Linked DNA regions of Homo sapiens. Each later gene encodes a partner of the first gene's protein in a complex. Each region holds a gene or a part of one and is shown in the gene's direction. Other genes may lie near its edges.

Region 1 (3,526 bases):
TAGTTACTAAAAATGCAAAAGGCAAATTTGAAATAACTATAAAAATAAACCTTTAATGAACTTTTTAATATGCAATACTCAATTGTAAATAACCATTATCTTTACTGAATCAGATGTTTCATTAACTGTTAGCAGTTATTTCGAGTTATTTATATATCACAGAATTTTGAACTAAAGATCATCTAGCTGAATTTCCTTTATATTAAAGAAGAGGAGAAAATCTTAATACTAAGTATGTGTGAGCCTGGAGCTGCCATGGAGCATGTAGAGAGAGTCTCCTAGTTGATACCAACTCAGGAAAGCAGAATCAAGCAATAAAGAGACATTTTGGGCCTGATGACATCATTTCAGCACCTGGATCCAGCGATGCCTAAAGATGTGACTCCTAGACTTTTCACTTACATGAGCCAAAACGGTTCCTTTGCATCAATAAATCGCTCTGTGATGCATTTTATAATGTACAACCAAGAATCTCAATATTTATTATTTTGCATTAAATATCAGTAAGTTTGATATAAAAAGCTCAGTAAAATTCATTAATTTGAGAATGTGTCTATATCATAGTAAAGTTTTAAACCTACATAATTTTCAATATTTATACCTTTTACTGCAAAAATAAAAATGAGTTTATCCTTGCCCTAAAGCTGTAAAATTAAACTCTGTACAATTCTAGTTATTTGAAATATAAAATAAAATTATTGGTCATTTCATGTATACATTTGTGGTAACACTTTAACTTTTTCCCTGTAAGGCCATCTTTTGTATGTTTCTGTTTCCATCAAGCAGGCTTTTAATGCAACTTTATCTTCTGGGTTTCCCTAGTCATAATTAAGGGTTTGGCCCTAGTTCACAAGTAATCTTCCAGCACAAATTTTATAAACAAATGCCCTGTGAATCTGCATGGCATAAATCAAGTCTCTAGATCCTGATCACTTCTATGTGAATTTGTAATATTCTGCTTTTGGACTTGTAAGACCAAGAGCAGACTCCCTAAACACAGAGGAGGCAGTAATTTAGGACAGCTTAAACATTCTGGCTGACTGCCTCATCAATGCTATTTAATAACAGAATTCTGGGGATGTCTTGAAATAGATACATTGGCAGTTTTTTTGTTTTTGTTTTTGCTTGTGTCACACATAATGCTGATGAAGAAACCATGAAGTGTCATATGAAAGGAAGTTACGATTATTATTGGTGAGTACATCAGTTAGAATGGTATTTGGCTATAAGCACTGGAAACTCTGACTGCCAGTGGCTTTAACAGGCAGGAGGAGTTCATTTATCTCGAGAGAAAAGAACAGAAAAGTGAAAAGCAAGGCAGTTCAGACTGGGGCACCTACTCAAAGAAGTGACCCAGTACCCAGGCCACTATTTTCTCTTTGCCATCCTTTTGTTCTAATAATTTGCCTGTCATCTCGTGACTCATATTTTCCATCTAATTAGAATAAAGAAAGATGAAATAGGAAAGTGAGATTATCATATGGGAAAAATAAATGCTTTCCCAACTATAACCAGCAGACTATACTGGCAAAATATACTGCTTGAATGCCATTGGCCAGATCTTTGTCATATGGTTACCCTAACTACAAGGGAGGCTAGGAAGGTGAGGGATTTTTTTCCTTTTATAGTGACATTTTGCCACTCCAAATAAAAAAAGGGTTGCTGTTAGGAAAAAGAGAAGAATGGGGATGGGGTGAACAACCAACAATGCTGCCATTGTGCTAGTATAGAAGCAAGTATCTCAGAGGCAGGTGAAAACAACTTCTATGCCCAAACAGAATTCTTTTTTATCTCTGATATAAAATGCAGAATATGAATTTTAATAAATTCCCCAGGTGAGTCATATGCACATTAAAGTTTGAGAAGCACTGATCTATACTGTCTTTCTACACACTTTTTTACCTTACTTTATCCTTCAGGATTCTGGCGTCAAGTCCCTCCCTATCAGTCTTTAAAAACTGTAGCCTTAAATCAGTAGGGATATAGAAGACATGAACAATACTTTCATCCATCTTGACCTAACTGCCATTTATAGAACGTTCTATCCCAAGACATCAGAATATATATTCTTTTTAAACATTTAATGAAAGGATTTAACTCCCAAACTCCAAAGCAAGATGTTCTAAGAAGACTCATTTAAAAAATTAATCTCAAAAAACAGATTTTAAATTGTACAGGAGAAATGCTTATATGAGAACAGAATTATGGGGCACTCTGAATACTAATTTAAGAAAGAAATATAAACCCCTTTTAAAACTCACATAATTTTCCCATTTCCCTTGAAGAAGATACTAATATTTCTGATATCATATAGGAGTAAAAATTGCGGGGAGGTCCTAATATCCAATATTAATAGAGCTGTGATTATTCAAGCTGTAGACTTAAATTTTTTAAATAGAGTAATGGTTGTTTAGTAGAGATTAATATCTAAATAAGGAAAATGAAGAAAGGGACTAAAAATCAAGTAAATAGGATAATTGAGTTTCAATGGGCAAGAATTTTTATATCATGATTTTACCACTCTGAATATCAAAGTCAGTGATGTCTCCAAAAGGCAAAGGGAAGTGTACCAATTTTTGGAGCACTATAAAAAGTGAAAAGTCATCTGCCAGATCTAACATGGTATACTCTAATGGAAAAATCATCAAGATTCTCTTCCTTTTTATGATTCTATAGTAACAGTTTAGTTGAGAAAATAAATCATAATTTGTGATTTCAAACATTTAATATGTGCACATGTATATTATAATATACTCATCCTTTATATTTATCATGCTTTTTTGAATAAATTTGCCACCTTATTGCATATGAAGAATATCTCCATATTCTTACAGCTGTTTTTCTTGGTTGCTTTCTAATTCCTTTCCTCCCTTATTGGTTACCTATGAATTGCTCAGTTCTAACAATGATTTGTAAATTTTAATACTATAGATATATTGCTGTTAATTATTACACCTAAAAATAAATTATTTTACAGAGGCTACTAAGAATGTCCATGTTTTTTTCTGAGATTCTTGCCATATTTTAAGGGTGATATGTAATTATGGGGATAACGGATGGTATGTAAAAATAGCAAGGACACACTTTTTTAAAAAAGAAAAGTTTACATTTGAAGGAAGCCCTGGACTTTGATGATTTAAGAAGAATTTTAATTATTGTCCTCAAGCAAGATTCAATTTTCTGGTTTGATGGGGCTATATTTTTCATTTACTACAGTAAAAAATAAAGCATATGAAACTATAAACAAGACACCTGCATGTGTATGCTTATCATTGCACGATTCACAGTAGCAAAGTCATAGAACCAACCTAAGTGTCCATGAGTGGTTGATTTGATAAAGGAAATATTTCATATATACATATACATATACACACACATACACACATATGTAACATTTTTGTATATATACACAATAACATTTACTGTTTACACATTGTATATAGTGTATATATAGAGTGTATATATAATGTGTGTGTATATATATACACACATTCCATGATATATAATATATAAAATATTTAAATAT
Region 2 (3,654 bases), on another chromosome or scaffold:
TTGTATCCAGTTTCTGTCTTGGGTAGTCTGACCATAAACCTGGCGTTCATTTGTGGCACTAGAGGTTATGGTATTCTTCAGGGGAAGAAAAGGATTGGTAAGGACTTGGGAACTGGATGAAAATTTAATAACAGGCTGGGAGTGAGGAGCCTGGAGCAGAAGGTTTATGAGAAACTGGAGCCCTGTTGCCCCTGAAGGTAGAACAGGGATAGTGGGTAGAAGCTCTAGAAACCATTCCTCTAGAAACTGCTCATATACAACAGGGGCGGCCCCAGAGCATAGTTTTGTTTGTTTTATTTTTGAGAGGATCTTGCTCTGTGGCCCAGGCTAGGGTGCAGTGGCTCCATCACAGCTCCCTGCAGCCTCGACCTCCCAGAACCAAGTGATCCTTTCACCTCAGCTTCCCGAGTAGCTGGACTACAGGCACATGCCACCACACCCAGCTAATTTTTGTAGAGATGAGGTCTCACTGTGTTGCCCAGGCTGGTCTCAAACTCCTGGGCTCAAGTGATCCTCCCACCTTGACCTCCCAAAGTGTTGATATTACAGACATGAGCCACCACACCTGGCCCATAGTTGTTCTTTTCTGAGTGTTCAAGCAGAGGCTGGGTGGCCAGTTAGCACTTGAGGAAAAGAATGAATGAGTATAAGATGGCAGCTAGCCAGACAGAAATCTGCAGAGACAGCACATCTTTCTACAATAAGGGCTGACCCATTCTAAATAAATTATAGTTCTCTCTCTTCAGAAGGTTCATACAATAAGCTGCTTTTTCTGTAAATGTGGTGCTTGTTGAGGTTGATGCTGGCAGATTGGTATCACCCTCCCATGCCAAGCTGGTCTCACCTTCAGGCTCCCCATTTGTCCATCCTGCAGTCTATCCTTGTTGCCACATTTATCTTTCCTGAGTGCTGCCTTAACCCTATTGATCTTTCCTCTATCGACAAACTTGACTGACTCCTTTATCTGAAGTAACGACCCCGTCCAGTGTCATTATTCGACTGCTCTGGTCCTCACATCCTGTAGGCTCCTGCCCAAGTGCCTGCTCTTTTCCTTGTGCAAGCTCTTGCCTCATAACCCTCCAGTAATTTCAGGCCCTTTTTACAGGCCTTGTGGTACCACCTCCATTTCTCAGTCCCTAGTCACTCAACCTAGAGGGTTCTGTCTCACCTTCTAGAGTATGCACTCTGGAGGGTCAGAACCACATCTGGTATATACTTGTGACCTTCATGGTGCCTTTGAAATCTGAGTGCCAGGCAGTGCAGGGGAAGACAGTTTGGACCAGCAGTTTGAAGCTGTTTTCGTTAGGGTTTAGCACCTTCAAGAGCTCTTCACATCTTTGCTCAGCAGGCAGTGCAGCACAGCCAGGGCTCTGAAGCTAGGCCAGCTGGTTCGAATCTGGAGTTCCCTGCATTCCAGCTGTTTGACCTGGGATAACTGCTTTGGTTTTTTTAACATGTAAAGATGGGAGCACTCGGCTGGGCGCAGTGGCTCACACCTGTAATCCCAACACTTTGGGAGGCTGAAGCGGGCAGATCACCTGAGGTCAGGAGTTCGAGACCAGCCTGTCCAACCTGGTGAAACCCCACCTCTACTAAAAATACAAAATTAGCCGGGCATGGTGGCGCATGCCTGTAATCCCAGCTACTCAGGAGGCTGAGGCAGGAGAATCGCTTGAACCCGGGAGGCAGAGGTCACGGTTAGCCGAGATTGCACCATTGCACTTCAGCCTGGGCAACAAGAGTGAAACTCCATCTCAAAAAAAAAAGGGGGGGAGCACTCATACCCACGCTGAAGGTGTTGTGAGGACTGTTTAGGTAAAGTGCTCAGTGCAGTCCCTGGTGTACACAGTTAGTACCGATGATTGCTGGGTAATTCACCAGCTTTGTCACAATGTCAGTCTGCTTTTCTGGACTTCCCCCTCCCACCAGTCAAGGCCCTCCCCACCGCTGGTGCTGTTGACCGTTAACTTATTAGCTGGTGATTTCCTTCCAGATGTCCAACATCACAGTCACATACAGAGATGGCCGAGTGGCACAGCTGGAGCAGGTATACATCCGTGGCAGCAAAATCCGCTTTCTGATTTTGCCTGACATGCTGAAGAACGCACCCATGTTAAAGAGCATGAAAAATAAAAACCAAGGCTCAGGGGCTGGCCGAGGAAAAGCTGCTATTCTCAAGGCCCAAGGTAGGTGCTTTTCATGCACAGGTTTTAAAATATAGGTTTGTCTTGTGTCTTGTAGAAAGGGGCCCTATTACTGCCTGGAGACAGAGAGGGTTTGACCTCTGCTCTCTCCACACCCACCACCCACTGCCACCCCTTCCCCTTGCAGCGTGGAGTGATCCTGTGAGGCCATTATTTTATTTTTTTGAGACAGAGTCTCGCTTTGTCACCCAGGCTGGAGTGCGATGGTGTGATCTCAGCTCACTGCAACCTCTGCCTCCCAGGTTCAAGCAATTCTCCTGCCTCAGCCTTTCAAGTAGCTGAGATTACAGTGCGCACTGCCCTGCCTAGCTAATTTTTTTATTTTTAATTTATTTTTATTTTTATTTTATTTTTAATTTTTTTTAATTTTTTTATTTTTTTGAGATGGAGTCTCGCTCTGTCGCCCAGGCTGGAGTGCAGTGGCGTGATCTCGGCTCACTGCAACCTCCGCCTCCCGGGTTCAAGCAGTTCTCTGCCTCAGACTCCTAAGTAGCTGGGATTACAGGCACCCGCCACTGCGCCGGGCTACTTTTTGTATTTTTAGTAGAAACGGGGTTTCACCACCTTGGCTAGGCTGGTCTTGAACTCATGACCTTGTGATCCACCTGCCTCAGCCTCCCAAAGTGCTGGGATTACAGGCGTGAGCCACTGCGCCCGGCTTATTTTTATTTTATTTATTTATTTTTGTATTTTTAGTAGAGATGGGATTTCACCATGTTGGTCAGGCTGGTCTTGAAGTCCTGACCTCACATGATCCACCTGCCTCGGCCCCCTGAAATGCTGGGATTACCAGTGTGAGCCACCGCACCTGGAGAGGCCCATCTTTTCTAGAAGTTCTGTGTGAGAGGTGTGGGATCGCTTGCCCTTGTCTAGTTTGCCGAGCAGACACAGCCCGGAGCAGATGAGCTGACTCGAGTGTGAGGGCAGCATTTCCTAGCGAGACTGGGTCTTATGGATGGACACCAGCATGTACTTAGGGAGGTCTGATAGTGGAGCTCCGTTTTCAGAAATAAAGCCACCTTTTAGTACATTCCAAAAGTGGGACTGTCCTTTTCGCAGTCCCCTAGTCTGGTCTTGCTTCTTGGTTAGCCTAATTTGGTTTTATATTTAGGTTCATGAAAGTTCTGTCATGTTGATTAGACAACAAAGTAATTGTGGCCCTTGGAAACTGTCTTAGTGTTGGTAAAAAAGGTTTGCAGCCAAGGAAGGCACTGGATTCTTCATTGGTATCTTTAGCTGCTGTACATGTTTTATATGTGTGTGAGGAAAAAAGTCAAACTGTGTTTTTCCTCTGCTCTCACAACACAACAATCAACAAAGACTTCTGTGACCAAGCAAGCAGTCAGTTCTGCAGTAGACACCAGCTGGGTGTCCTTCAGTTCTGACACTATCTACCTGGAGATAGCCTGAAAAACCACAGGTTGAGGGCTCGGTCCCACAAGACAGCCCC
Region 3 (3,654 bases), on another chromosome or scaffold:
GAACTTGGTTGCAGGGTGGTGGCAAAGTGATCGAGGCTGGCAGAGACCTGGTGAGCTAAATGCCTGGTTACTTTTATAGCTCGTAGCCTCAGGTGAACTGATGAGTTCCAAGAAGAAGGATTTGCACCCTCGGGATATTGATGCATTTTGGCTGCAGCGGCAGCTCAGTCGTTTCTATGATGATGCCATCGTGTCGCAGAAGAAGGCAGATGAAGTATTGGAGATTTTGAAGGTATGGCCAAGATGACAATAGTTGTATATTTAGTGTATCTTAGCACATGGGGACAGCGTATGAAGTGGCAGATGGCTTTGGCCTTAATGGTGGTGTTACCTGCTCTCTGCAGACGGCCAGTGATGATCGGGAATGTGAAAATCAGCTGGTTCTGCTGCTTGGTTTCAACACCTTTGATTTCATTAAAGTGTTGCGGCAGCACAGGATGATGAGTGAGTATATGGTGGGGTCTTCCTGCAGAGTGAGTACATATGTGTGCATGTGTGACATAGAGATTCTGTTGTTTTCACAGCCTAAGTGCTTGTTTCTTTTATTTTTCTTCTTTCTACCCTGAGGATGGTTTTTTGCCTTATTTCCTCCTCCTCACTTCCTTTGTTCCTTTTGTTGTGGGTAGTTTTATACTGTACCTTGCTGGCCAGTGCACAAAGTGAAGCTGAAAAGGAAAGGATTATGGGAAAGATGGAAGCTGACCCAGAGCTATCCAAGTTCCTCTACCAGCTTCATGAAACCGAGAAGGAGGATCTGATCCGAGTAAGGACTGGGTTGGTTTATCTGTCTGATTTCTGAGCTAACGGTGGCTAGAAGATTGCAGCATGAAGCTAAATTCATGTTAAAAGTGGAAGTTGAAAAAGTAATTTCCTAAATTCTTTGGGGTTTATCAGTGCATACAGGTTAGAATCAACACATCCACATTGGTTTGGTCATGAGACCAGTGACCTGCTGCTATCTTTCACCAGCACTGTGGGGACCTTTATTGTTTATTTACACAGTAAATCCATGGTGTTTACTAAAATAGAGTAACAGAACACATGTACTTGCTTAATGGAACCCACCCTTCGACCCCTCAGGGGTAGCCCTTGGTACTTAATTATAGAACGTGTATTTGTGGCATCCTTGTACTGCGCATTGCCCCTTTAAAAGTGTTTGTTTGCTTTGATCATTCTGGTGGTCCCCATGTAAAGCACTGTCTTTCTGTTTCACGACTTACTAGTCAGCACCTGTGACTCAAGTATTAGCTAAGCAGGGGCAGAAAAGGACAAGAACCTATGATACTGATGAATTGTTTTTGTGATTTTTATCTTTGTCCACTACAGGAGGAAAGGTCCCGGAGAGAGCGAGTGCGTCAGTCTCGAATGGACACAGATCTGGAAACCATGGATCTCGACCAGGGTGGAGAGGTAGGATCCAGGGCGATTTATTTCCCAGGCCTTGATGGATGGAAAACTCACTTGCTCGGCTTGCTTACTTCCTTTGTGTTTTTGTCTTTCACATTCCCAGGCACTGGCTCCACGGCAGGTTCTGGACTTGGAGGACCTGGTTTTTACCCAAGGGAGCCACTTTATGGCCAATAAACGCTGTCAGCTTCCTGATGGATCCTTCCGTCGCCAGCGTAAGGGCTATGAAGAGGTGCATGTGCCTGCTCTGAAGCCCAAGCCCTTTGGCTCAGAAGAAGTAAGTGAATTGCTTTCTTCAGTTCTCTGCTCAGTTCACCTCCTGGTTTGGATTTCAACCATTGACCAAAATGTAGCCTTGTTTCATATATAGTTTATTTCAGGGCTGAAAGCTGCAACAGAATTTTCCCATTCTGATTTTGAGCCCAGGGGACAATATTGATCTCTGGACTGACCTTTAATGGAAAGTTATGCAAAGAGATTGCCAGGGAACAAAATCCTGGCAATCCCACAATAACGTTTTGCTCAAGGATGCTGCCAACATGATATTGATGGCACTTCTTTTCTTCTAGCAACTGCTTCCAGTGGAAAAGCTGCCAAAGTATGCCCAGGCTGGGTTTGAGGGCTTCAAAACACTGAATCGGATCCAGAGTAAGCTCTACCGTGCTGCCCTTGAGACGGATGAGAATCTGCTGCTGTGTGCTCCTACTGTAAGCGCCACCCTGCCTGCTGTTTTCTTGTAGAATATGGTGTGGAGTTTCCGTTGCAAGATTGTTTTTTATTTCCACCCCCACCCCCTAATTCTTTGTCCTTTGATGGAAGAGAGGTTAAATAGTAGGATAAAGTGCCCAGGACAAGCTCTATTCTCTATTTGGGAAATAAGCCCATGGAAGTTAGGGCAGTGAGAATAACCAGGTGAATAGGCGTTCTCATCCCTGACCTCTCCCGTAGGGTGCTGGGAAGACCAACGTGGCCCTGATGTGCATGCTCCGAGAGATTGGGAAACACATAAACATGGACGGCACCATCAATGTGGATGACTTCAAGATTATCTACATTGCCCCCATGCGCTCCTTGGTGCAGGAGATGGTGGGCAGCTTTGGAAAGGTGAGGGAGTAGAACTTTCCTGCAGAGGATACTGGGTGCACCTATGAAAGTGTTGTGGACAGGCCTGGACCTCACCGCTTCTTGTATTAGGGCATCTCTGGCATGCCTCCTGGGATTGTTGTTATTTTTTATTTTTCTCTCCCCATTTCCAAGATGGAACTTAACCCAGGTACAGAGTTTCTGAAGTAAGAATGTCCTGAGCCATCTTTTACAAGGGTTAGCATCTTTCTTTCATCCTCTCCATGGCAATTTTCTGCAGTTCGTATCATTTGTGTTATTGAAGTGTTTATGAAACATCAAATGGATGTGGATGATAATAGACCTAGTGGTGTATTGTAGGTCTTCTTATCTACAAGTTGCCATTTCTTCCTCTTGTGTACAGAGTTCCCAGAGGTCTTTTTTTTTGAGACAGGGTCTCGCTGTCGCCCAAGCTGGAGTGCAATGGCACAATCATGGCTCACTGCAGCCTTAACTTCCCAGGTTCAAGTGATCCTCCCACTTCAGCCTCCCTGGTAGCTGTGATTATAGACATGTACTACTAGATTAGCTAATTTTTATATTTTTTGTAGAGACAGGGTTTCACCATGGTCTAGAACTCCTGGGCTCAAGCATTCTGCCTGCGTTGGCCTCTGAAAGTGCTAGAATTACAGGCATGAGCCACCATGCCTGGCCCCCAGAGATCTTTTGTCTGCTTTATTTGCCTGAGTTAAATTTGGATTTGTTTGAGGAAGATATGTTCATAAGATCTGATTCGCCTTGTATTCACCTGATGGGTTGATACCTGCTCCCAATGCCCTACACTCCAATTGCCCAAACAGAAAGCATGGTGTCCAGGCCCCTTCAAGCATTCCTGCCTGATGTAGTTTTCCTCCCACAGCGCCTGGCCACTTATGGCATCACTGTTGCTGAACTGACTGGGGACCACCAGCTGTGCAAAGAAGAGATCAGTGCCACTCAGATCATCGTCTGCACCCCCGAGAAGTGGGACATCATCACCCGCAAGGGTGGTGAGCGCACCTACACCCAGCTGGTGCGGCTCATCATTCTGGTGAGTTGGGAGCAGTCGTAGAATATAGAGTCCAGTTGTGTCAGGGCGGGTTTGCTGGGTTTTCATGCGAAATGTTTCTTTGCTGCCTTTTCTGT

What was found.
Region 2: LSM8 (region 1) and SNRPD3 share a complex: the UniProt entries of both Homo sapiens proteins name them as parts of the U4/U6-U5 tri-snRNP complex.
Region 3: LSM8 (region 1) and SNRNP200 share a complex: the UniProt entries of both Homo sapiens proteins name them as parts of the U4/U6-U5 tri-snRNP complex.

Annotation. Positions count from the first base shown.
Region 1 is NC_000007.14:118,201,053-118,204,578, forward strand, and holds the end of LSM8 (LSM8 homolog, U6 small nuclear RNA associated), read left to right. Parts: 3' UTR 1-2,983; downstream 2,984-3,526. UniProt on the Homo sapiens protein: Plays a role in pre-mRNA splicing as component of the U4/U6-U5 tri-snRNP complex that is involved in spliceosome assembly, and as component of the precatalytic spliceosome (spliceosome B complex).
Region 2 is NC_000022.11:24,565,991-24,569,644, forward strand, and holds part of SNRPD3 (small nuclear ribonucleoprotein Sm D3), read left to right. Parts: intron 1-1,993; coding exon 1,994-2,186; intron 2,187-3,654. UniProt on the Homo sapiens protein: Plays a role in pre-mRNA splicing as a core component of the spliceosomal U1, U2, U4 and U5 small nuclear ribonucleoproteins (snRNPs), the building blocks of the spliceosome.
Region 3 is NC_000002.12:96,295,393-96,299,046, reverse strand, and holds part of SNRNP200 (U5 small nuclear ribonucleoprotein 200 kDa helicase), read left to right. Parts: intron 1-79; coding exon 80-232; intron 233-344; coding exon 345-444; intron 445-626; coding exon 627-763; intron 764-1,326; coding exon 1,327-1,410; intron 1,411-1,510; coding exon 1,511-1,684; intron 1,685-1,976; coding exon 1,977-2,114; intron 2,115-2,355; coding exon 2,356-2,511; intron 2,512-3,388; coding exon 3,389-3,559; intron 3,560-3,654. UniProt on the Homo sapiens protein: Catalyzes the ATP-dependent unwinding of U4/U6 RNA duplices, an essential step in the assembly of a catalytically active spliceosome. Plays a role in pre-mRNA splicing as a core component of precatalytic, catalytic and postcatalytic spliceosomal complexes.